3 linked regions of the Homo sapiens genome follow. The protein of the gene in region 3 purifies or fractionates together with the protein of the main gene of each other region. This does not show direct contact. Each region holds a gene or a part of one and is shown on either strand. Other genes may lie near its edges.

Evidence for each region.
Region 1: the proteins of MAP2K4 (region 3) and PUS3 purify together in Homo sapiens (affinity purification with mass spectrometry; one large-scale study listed by BioGRID and IntAct). This does not show direct contact.
Region 2: the proteins of MAP2K4 (region 3) and TNFAIP8L1 purify together in Homo sapiens (affinity purification with western blotting, with the first as the bait; one study listed by BioGRID). This does not show direct contact.

What each region holds. Positions count from the first base shown.
Region 1 is NC_000011.10:125,896,618-125,900,272, reverse strand, and holds part of PUS3 (tRNA pseudouridine(38/39) synthase), read left to right. Parts: exon of another isoform or gene 1-4; coding exon of another isoform or gene 5-904; exon of another isoform or gene 905-929; intron 930-1,114; exon of another isoform or gene 1,115-1,169; intron 1,170-3,655. Other genes in the region: centriolar and ciliogenesis-associated protein HYLS1, read right to left, coding at 5-904. UniProt on the Homo sapiens protein: Formation of pseudouridine at position 39 in the anticodon stem and loop of transfer RNAs.
Region 2 is NC_000019.10:4,652,637-4,656,068, forward strand, and holds the end of TNFAIP8L1 (tumor necrosis factor alpha-induced protein 8-like protein 1), read left to right. Parts: 3' UTR 1-2,932; downstream 2,933-3,432. UniProt on the Homo sapiens protein: Acts as a negative regulator of mTOR activity.
Region 3 is NC_000017.11:12,023,877-12,027,531, reverse strand, and holds part of MAP2K4 (dual specificity mitogen-activated protein kinase kinase 4), read right to left. Parts: intron 1-3,655. UniProt on the Homo sapiens protein: Dual specificity protein kinase which acts as an essential component of the MAP kinase signal transduction pathway. Essential component of the stress-activated protein kinase/c-Jun N-terminal kinase (SAP/JNK) signaling pathway.

The sequences.
Region 1 (3,655 bases), on a different chromosome or scaffold from region 3:
AGATTTAAGAAGGAGAAAGAGGGAAGGGAAGCTTCCTGGGTATGACACCATTTGCAAGGTCACAACGAACACCCCAACGGAGTGCAGACCTTTTCTTCTCTGTTGGTACTAGATAATTGTTTGGGACATATATATGCTGAGGTTTGGATTGGGGTTCTGCTCGACAAAGCATCTGCTCTCGGACACCCCAGCGTAATTCCTTTCTATGATCTTCACCAGGTAAACGTATTGAGTCCCAGTCCCGTTTGTACTCAAAATACCGGGCTACCCGGTCTGTCTTGCCCCGGTTTCGGCTTAACTGGTCCAGCTTTGGGAGAATAAAGGACTTGGGTCTGCTGGCAACAATCAGGTCTTGTTCGTAAGCTGGAGAGCCCATTCCTTCTCTTTGTAGAGAGCAAATGAGCTGATCTTGAGAAATTCCTTGGTATTCATGTGGTAGGTTAAATTTTTGTGAAACATCAAATGAAGATTCCTTGTCTTCCTGGAACTGTACATTCATCAGCCTTTGTCTTAAGTCCCAGAGATCCTGATCATTTTCTGTACCAGATTCTGATTCACTGATAATCGACTCATCTGTTACTAATACTTCCCCATCTGGCTTTCTGCGCAGCACCTTTCTCTTCATCACTGGCTTTCGGAGTCTTTGGGAGGCCTCAGAGACTGTTTCTGAAGGGACATTACTTTCTACATGTGGGTACTGTAGTTGCACAGGAAGAGCAGGTCGCTTCCCTGGGGCTACTGAAGCTTTACTGTAGGGATCATATTGGATAGATTGGGCTTCTCTCCTGACATCTCCTTCACCCTGCCCTGCACAGATGTGGGTAAAAGCTGTAGCAGCTGCCAACATTCGTTCTTCTGGATCCATATTAGCCCATATTTGTCCATCAGGTAGAAGTTCTTCCATTGCTTCCCCTACACTGTAGGACCTTCTGCAAGAGATAACATTGGTCAGTTTTCTGATAATAAATTCCCAGCTCATAAATTGCTCATTCCCTTATCTCCGTTTTATAGCAGTCAAATGGAGAAAGAATGGCTAAGGCCATCATAAATTCAATACAGGGTAGTATCAGAACAGTTTAGAGGGGCATTAACTCAGTTCTAGGGAATCTATTACCTGCTTTCATTTCCACTCTTACTCCTGCTTTCTACTGTCTTGCCACCTTCAGGTCCTAAAACAGGACAGTATAGTTCTGGCATAAGAAAAGCTTGAAACTACATGATATGGGGCATACTGCTTAATGCACATTATGTAACAGGTACTTAGGGAGTACTTTATGTGCCTGCCATTGTTCTATGTGCTTTACATTTATTAATTCATGTAATTTTCAGCTGTGGGATTATCTGCTTTTCACAGATGAATAACATGAGGCACAGGGAAGTTAAATAACTTGCCCAAGGTTACTCAGCTAGTAAGTAGTGGAGCTGAAATTCTAACTCAAGCAGTTTGGCTTCAGACTGAGTCCCTGCTTTTAACCATAAAAGAGTGATTTGATCTAAAAAAAAAAAATCACAAAAGCAGTGTTGTGTTCTCTCACACACATATAATGTGTATATACGTGCATACATATAATTTCTATGCTTTAATAATTTTTTTTTTTGAGATGGAGTCTTGCTGTCACCTAGGCTGGAGTGCAGTGGCATGATCTCGGCTCATTGCAACCTCCACCTCCTGGGTTCAAGCGATTATCCTGTCTAAGACTCCGGAGTAACTGGACTACTACAGGTGTGGGCCACCACGCCTGGCTAATTTTTGAATTTTTAGTAGAGATGGGGTTTTACCATGTTAGCCAGGCTGGTCTCAAACTCCTGACCTCAGGCAACCCACCCGCCTCGGCCTCCCATTACAGGGGTGAGCCACCGCGCCCAGCTGTCTTGGTAGTTTTAATGCATCTTCAGTTGCCAGCTAAATCTGTTTATTCTAGTGTCTGAAATAACTTGGTATCCACATCAATCAGCCACATACCCAATGCTAGTTTCCTGACTGGATCTGAGATAGGTATCTACTGTCCACTATTTCCTGTGTCCCCACTATTTTTCTTTTTAAACTGAAAAACTAATACATGCACATGATAATTTTAAGCAAGGATTTTCCCTCCCCCACCAAGTTTTACTCTCAAAGGCAATTTCTTATGATTTATCTAGAAATTTTCCATATTCACATGTACATTTTTTTTTAATACCGTAAAGGACAACACTACACAACTCTTCTGAACCTTAAAGATAATCTTGGTTATCCAGCTATATCAGCACAGGCCGACATTCTTCATTTTATGTTGCGCGGAATTCCAATGTATGAATGTATCATAAATTTAGTCAGCCATTCCCTTACTGGTGTAATTTAGGTTTATAGGTTTACTGATGCTAACACGAGTATCTTGCAAGTTTTTATCTATTTGTGCAAGCATATGAATGGATTAAATTTCTAGACATGGGAGAGGTGGGCCAAAAGGTATGTGTATATTCAATTTTGACAGCTGTTGCCAAAATGTTTACCTCCAAAGAAGCTGTACTGACCATACATTAATAGAGCTTGTGTCTCTATTCCCTCTCCAAAGTGGTATACTATCAAACTTTGTCTTTGCAGTCACTTCCTTGAAAAATAGTTCATATCCTTTTGCATTTATCTCAGCTGAGTAAAATTGAGCATTTAAAATTTTTTTTAAAAAATTTTTATAAGCTTTTTTCTTTTTGTTTGAAATGCTTGGTCTTTGCCCATTTGACTCTCAGGTTGCTGGATTTTTTTTTTTTTTACTTTTTCATTAAAACTGATGTATATATTCATGAAATATATATTGAGGAAGGTCGCACTTTACCATCACTTATTTTTTTCTTCTCAGTTTGTCATTTGCCTTTTATTTTTTGCTGGCAGAAGTTTTTCCTTTTAGGTCACATCTTTTTCTAGTGTCTGGGTTTCTAGACTGTTTTGCTTAGAAATGCCTTTCCTACTCCAGAATTTCAGAAAAAAGTCATTCCATGTTTTCTTCTAGTACTTTCAGTTTCATTTTTTACAATTTAAACTTTTAATCTATTATAGATACAGAAACTCATAGTAAAAAACTAAGCTACCTATACTTAGATAACATGGCCTTAGAACAGATGTGGAGATGGTCTTCTCTAACTAAAGTAACCATCAGTCACAGATTGTCTAGGACCATCCCAATTTTAAGGATGTAGTACAGTTGTCCTCAGATTATTGAAATATTACAGGAATTTCTACACTGACATCTACATTACATCAGACTGACTTTTTAAACTATTAGAGGCACAGAAATCTTTTATCAAAATATGCATTTAATTCAGCTTTAGAAAGGGGTCAGAGTGCTTAATTATCTTTTTTTCTCCCATCAAAATTGCTTAAAGTGAGAAAATCTTGTCTCTAGCTTCTACTTCCAATGTGAAATACAACCATCGGTAAGCTTCTTCAGTTAGGCTAGCTTCTATTGCACCACCTAATATTCATCTAATGAATATTAGATGATGGAGCATACAAGTCATTTATTTGAGATAATGGAAAGCAATAGAAACTCAGAGCAGATAAAAGTAGCCCATATAAAGAAATCTTATGACTAGCAAATTGAACAAATACAGTGAGAAATCAAATGGAAATGTTTTAGAGAAAAAAATCTGTAACATCAGTCCTCAATCAATTCAGTGA
Region 2 (3,432 bases), on a different chromosome or scaffold from region 3:
GGCCCCCGCCCAATGGGGAGAGGAATTTGGGGCCCTACTCTGGGGACCACCTTTCACCCGTTTGTACTTTCTGGGCCACGCCGACCCCTGGGTCGCTTGATGTAAAAGCCAAAAGCTGCTGCCTCCCACTTGGATCATGTCGCCTGGGATTTTCATCCCTCGCACAAGGACTACGGGTTCACACGGTGAACTGGGGGAAGGGAAGTGTTAGGGGGCAAGTCGCGGCACCCCCCCTTCCATAAACTCACGTCCTAACCCCCAGGACCTCAGAAGATGATCTGATTTGGAAATAGGATCATTACAGATGGAATTAGTTCAGATGATCTCATCTTGGAGTAGGGTGGGCCCCAATTCAAGGACTGGGGTCCTTAAAAAAAGGGGGCCTGGGGCAGGGCGCGGTGGCTCACGCCTGTAATCCCAGCACTTTGAGAGGCTGAGGCGGGCGGATCACGAGGTCAGGAGATCGAGACCATCCTGGCTAACACGGTGAAACCCCATCTCTACTGAAAATACAAAAAATTAGCTGGGCATGGTGGCACATGCCTGTAGTCCCAGCTACTCGGGAGGCTGAGGCAGGATAATCACTTGAACCAGGAGGAGGAGGTTGCAGTGAGCCGAGATTGTGCCACTGCACTCCAGCCTGGGTGACAGAGCAAGACTCTGTCTCAAAAAAAGAAGCGGGGGAGTGGGGGATTGAGGCCACGTGCAGTGGCTCACTACTCTAATTCCAGCACTTTGGGAGGCCGAGGCAGGAAGATTGCTTGAACTCAGAAGTTCAAGACCAGTCTGGGCAACATGGTGAGACCCTCGTCTCTACAAAAAAAAAATTATCGTGGTGGGCCGGGCGTGGTGGCTCACACCTGTAATCCCAGCACTTTGGGAGGCTGAGGCGGGCAGATCACAAGGTCAAGAGATCGAGACCATCCTGGCCAACATGGTGAAACCCCGTCTCTACTAAAAATACAAAAATTAGCCGGGCATGGTGTTGCGTGCCTGTAGTCCCAGCTACTTGGGAGGCTGAGGCAGGAGAATCGCTTGAACCTGGGAGGCGCAGGTTGCAGGGAGGCGGAGGTTGCAGTGAGCCGAGATTGCACCACTGCACTTCAGCCTGGTGACAGAGCGAGACTCGTCTCAAAAAAAAAAAAAAAAAAAAAAAAAAAAGTGACTGTGGTGGTGCACACGTATAATCCCAGCTACTTGAGAGATGACGAGGGAAGATCACTTGAGCCCAGGAGTTAAGAGGCTGCAGTGACCGATGATCATGCCACTGCACTCCAGCTTGGGTGAGAGTGGGACTCTGTCTTAGAAAGAAAAAAAAAAGTATTTGGACACAGACATGCATGCAAGGAAGGCCAATGATGCCGGCCACCACCAGGAGCTGGGAGAGGCCCAGGGCAGATCCCCTTCAGCCTTGGAGGGACCTAGCCCTGGCCACACCTTCATCTCAGACTTGCGGCCCAGAGAACTGAATGAGAATAAATGTGCGTGAAGCCCCTCAGTCCACAGGATGTGGTACTGGAAGCCCCCACTCAAGAAGGCTCCAGTGAATGCTGGCACGTTCAGCCAGGATGCCTCCGTGAAGCTGGAGACCTCTGCCCTGGGTCGGGAGGGGAAACTGCTCCAATCCAGGGACTGCCACATGGGAGGGGACGGAGCGTGCCCACCTCCCAGGGGTGAGGGGGGACCCACCTGAGATGTGTGCACATTTTATTTATTTATTGTTTTGAGACAAAGTCTCGCTGTGTCACCCAGGCTGGAGTGCAGTGGTGAAATCTCGGCTCATTGCAGCCCCTTCCTTCCAGGCTCAAGTGATCCTCCCACCTCAGCCCCGGGTAGCTGGGACTACAGGTGTGCACGAGCACACCCGGCTAATCTTTGTATTTTTTGTAGACAGAAGGTCTCACCATGTTGCCCAGGATGGTCTCGAACTCCTGGGCTCAAGCGACCTACCTACCTCGGCCTCACAAAGTGTGCACATTGTAATATCGTGATTTCATATTTGGAGAATCAGCAACCAACCAGCCAACCATGTTGCTTTTATAAGACAGAGCTGAGAAAGCAAAGCTTGGCTGTCGTCTTGGCTCTGGTACCACCCACGAGATGCGGGCGATTCTCAGCTCAGGGCGTGGAGGCGTGGTGTGGGGGAGTCTATTTGCCATTTTTGTTTGTCAGCAGGGGGCAGGGGTTCTCAAAGATTGCAAAATGCTGCTGCAGGTCAGGAAGGTTATTTTGGGTGCCTGTGGGGGAGGTGAAACAAGGTCCCATGACTGTTTTGCAGAACCTTGTCTGTGGAGGGTAGAGGTTGCGGCAGGGGCCTGTGGGCCTTACTTGGTGAGAAGGTAGGTCTAGCTGGCTCCATTCAGTATTTGAGACATTTGGAATTTGTCTGCATTTAAAACCAAGAGATCACACACACCTGTCTGGATTTGGAGTTTCTCTTGAAAACTCGCCAGTCCGGCCGTCTGAGCCTGCACTGACGCCTGGTGAAGCTGTGCAGGGGCCGCCCCTCTCCCTTTCACCACAGTCCTCTCCACTCCCTTTCGCCTCTCCCTGGCCTGCTGCACTCACTGATAGGAAATTCTGACCCCAGACTCGGAGCAGCCTTCCCGTGGTTCGGTTTTTGCTTCCGCGAAAAAGCCAAAGGCCTTGGCCAGAGAGCCAGCTGTTCCTACCTCTACCCCACGCTTCCAAGGCAACCTTCTCCACTTATCTTAGGCCGAGAGACAGCTCTTCAAGAACGTACATGGATCCTGATTTTCTCACGAAGTCCCGATGGAACCCTGTGCTGTTGAGACATCAGTGTGTAAAACTCTCTGTGTCCCTGTTGGGCTGTCCAGACAGTCTGGACTCTTGTAAATTTGAGATTTAATTAAAGGAAACAAACCAAATAGGACTGCGGAACAATTTAAATAAAAGCACACACCAGCCTGGGCGCAGTGGCTCATGTCAGTTAAACCTAGTGCTTTGGGAGGCCGAGGCAGGAGGATCACTTGAGCCAAGGAGTTCAAGACCACCCTGGGCAACATAGCGAGACCCTATCTCTAAAAATATATATATATAAGGCCAAGTGCAGTGGCTCACGCCTGTCATCCCAGCACTTTGGGAGGCTGAGGCAGGCAGATCACCTGAGGTCAGGAGTTCAAGACCAGCCTGGCCAAGATGGTGAGACCCCATCTGTACTAAAAAGTACAAAAATTAGCTGGGCATGGCGGCGGGTGCCTGTAATCCCAGCTACTTGGGAGGCTGAGGCAGGAGAATCACTTGAACCTGGGAGGCGGAGGTTGCAGTGAGATGAGATCGTGCCACTGCATTCCAGCCTGGGCAACAGAGTGAGACTTGGTCTCAGAAACAGAATAAAAAAATAAAAAATTATAGCCAGTCAGGGTGGCATGCACATGTGGTCCCAGCTATCTGGAAGGATGGCTTGGACCC
Region 3 (3,655 bases):
TCTTTTTTTAAATGTTTGAACAATTTGGTGTCTGTGTGTGTGTGTGTATGTTCAGATATATATGTCTGGCAACACTTTTCTTGATTCCTCGTTTTTCAATGTTTGAGCAATTTTGGGTAAAATGAAATACAATATAGCTCGAAAAAGCTGCTGTGATGTCCATTTTAATCCTCTTTCTCCGTGGTGGAGAATAATGTGTTGTTCTTAAAGAACCAAGCTGCATACAATGTAATTGTTTTCTTCATTCAAAAGGCCCACCTTGAGTTGTGTAAACTACTGGCTAATCATCTCCCTTTCACTGTGTAGCTACAAGCAAGGCCAGTCTTACGACTTGAATACTTTCTATTAATTTAAGTACACATTAAACTCCCAACCTTACCGAGCATGAAGAGACACCTGAAGATTTTCTAGAGTTGGGAGGAAACAGCTAGAAGCTAACCCACATCCACTAGCAAAAATAGTAATTTGCCCAGATTACAAATTTAGCCAGAACGACAACATTTGTTAAATTTTATGACAAATGAGTTCCTTTTATATATAGTGTTAAAAGGATTCTATTACCTTTCAAATCTGCAATGGTTTCCTCTAATTAAAGTCTTCTACTTACTTGGAGATTCCCAATCGAAATGTCTCCAGATTCAAAATGCCACTGTAAACCCTCCAGCAAGTTTAGAACATTGTAACATGAAGTGCACCATTCTTGGAGCACCAAGGCTCCAAAATCATCTCAAAAGGTGGCTGGTTGCTTGGAGCTTCCGCCCCCTGACTGAAACCTAAAATAATCTCTCTCCTCCATTCCTGAATCTGCATCACTTCTGGCAAAGATGCTTCCTTCAGACCTGAATGGCCGAAATGACTTAAAGAGGCTCAGAGAACCATGCAGTAGAGTAGTAAGAGGAGCAAAGGCTACCAGTCACCCAGGTGGTTAAAACCTACCTCTTCCGGAACAAATAAACGTCTACCCCCTCATCTATGAAGGGGACTATGTCCACTTACCTTTAAAGGGTGGTTGTGAGCATCAAATTAGGTAGGAACAGTGAAAAAAGTTGTTAACTGTTACTTTCCCTTTCTTTTTTAAGCCTCAATTAAAGTTTCTCAGGTTGTATCATTGGAGCCATCTGCACTTCCTAGAGACTACAAAGGAGACTGACCTCGATTATGTAGAATGGAGTTAGGATTATGATATCCAGACCCCTAAAAATAAGGAAACTCTATGGGCTCACATCAATCCAGCTTCTCAAATTAGTGAAAGAAGAAAAATTTACGAAAAAAGAAAACGACTCAAAATACAGGGTTAACTAATATCCCATCTTAAACAAGTTTCAGCACACATTCAGGCTAGTAAGGTATTTTAAAGGAAAATGTGAGAAAATATGTATTCTAAAAGTGAGGTGAGATGTTTTTCCACTTTTTTACTTTAATACTAGGGTTGCTCTAATTTTTAAGGGAACATAAGAAGAAATGCAGTCTGAGCTTTGAGGGGGGACTAATTTGCTGAGGTGAACTTGTATGAGGTTATGTTAAACAGTAAAAGAAATGTTATGCAACACACTGGGAAGGGCAAGCAGTTCTGGGGTTTGAAACTCTTCACTGTCTGCACAAATCAGTTCTTTAAAATTAAGATAAAGGTCTCCCATGGTTCTCGAAAACCAGACTAATTAGTAAAAACAGATAAACAAAATCAAAAGCAGGACATTTCATATACATTTTATATTCAAATATTTTTGGGAGAAATAACTACATTGATTTTAAATCTCTTGACTTTTTCTTAACAGATATACTTCATTACATTTTAAAGTACTGGGCGTGTTTTCTAAAGCAGAATCAAGCTATCATCTTTCTACTTAAACTGATACATAAAAATGCTCAGCTAAGGGTAAATAGCTAAGGACTCGACTGGTCACAAAGTTTTCTGTAAATCAGAACTTTAAGAGAATCAGAGGCACCTACAACATATACTTTCTAACTATTTCTTGTAACAAGTATTTTACAAATGGCTCAATGTTTTTCTGAATCAATTATAGATTCTATTCTAACCATTTTAAGAAAACATCTATTGAAAACTGACATTTCTCAGCTAAGCGATCTTTGAAATCTATTACATTTTAAGTGATTAGTAGCTACAGCAGGCAAATAATCATGTCTAATAACAATCTGTATATACTTATAGATATTCTATAATTTTCAAAGCACTTTCACATGCATTAAGAATGTGATTCTTACAATGGCCCTACAGGTTAGGCATTATCCCTATTTTAACAGATGAGAAATTTCTGAACAGAGAGTTGAGAAAAGTTAGGGAATTTCCCTAAAATCTCAGTGTTTGTAAACAGCAGAGCAGTTACCTTAACCATGGTTTTCTGAGTCTAAGTCCAGTGCTCTTTACACTTCAACATCCTTTTGTTTCTTAAACATTACTACATGCTATGGGAACGCTAGCTGCTACAGCTACTACTGGAAAAGGAATCATCCTGCCTATGCAATTTCATTATAGAAGCTGTTGAATTCTCAACTGGCAAGCTCTATTAATCAGAATATGCTATTCTCTAACATGCCAACCATACTATCTAGTACTATTTGCTATACATATCTAAGATTAATTACCTGGTATAACGGGATCTTCTCTTTACAGGATTCACACTAACCCAGCTAAAGTCACGAGGCTTTAGATTTGCCACAAGGGAAAGCCCTAGCCATGGCTAGGAAGGTTCTTGAATGCTACAAGTCAATTCCGTACTTTAGGTTGGCTAAAATTTCTTGGACTAAAGAATAATACTTTTCCACAGAATGAGGCCCTAATATGCAAGAAATTTTCCTATTAAATCTATCTACATTAACAAATTATTGATGAAACATTAAGAATAAAAACATTTCTCAGAGTAGTTAATTTGAGTATTGTTTCCTCTCTCAAATGCAAACTCATCCTAATGCCAAATATACTTTCATAAAACCACTTACCTAACTTGGCAAACAGATCTACATTTTGTTAGCTTTAGTCATCAAAGAACCAAAGCCTAAGAACTACTCAACGTATAAAGGTTGGGTGTGTTTGTGAATGAACATGAAAAAAAAATGAGTCAGAATGAGTGAAGACACTCAAATCTTTTGAGTAATAACAAAATTAGCAGCTATTCCCTATTATCTGAGGGACAGTGGCAAAAATGGCCAGATTAGAAGCCATAACTGTTAGCATAAACATGCAACCAAAGCTACGTCTGTTGATTACTCTTATAATCAAATTCACTATAAATCCCATTCCAACCATCTACCCATCCCCTATGAAAAAAATGAGTAGAGCAAATTGATAGCTAGACTTCTGTTTCATATCGTTCACATTGTAATTCATTTGAGAGTCCTCAGATCCAGAAAAAAACAGATCCGGAGTTTGAAGTAGAATAAAATCTCATCTAGGATACTCTGAAAGGACTGCTCAATAATGAAAAGTGGGGAAATCAACAGGTTAGAGAGAACAGTGGGACCTAGTAATATGAACTAAAGAAATTGTGTGGTAAATAATGAGAGGTTAGGGACTCATTTACCAATAGTAAAAGGGACCATTAATGAGACCATAACAATATTGTCGCTACTAACAATGATGGCTAATGTGTATTGCATCCTTACTACATGTCAGGTCCCAGGCTTACATGCATTCTCA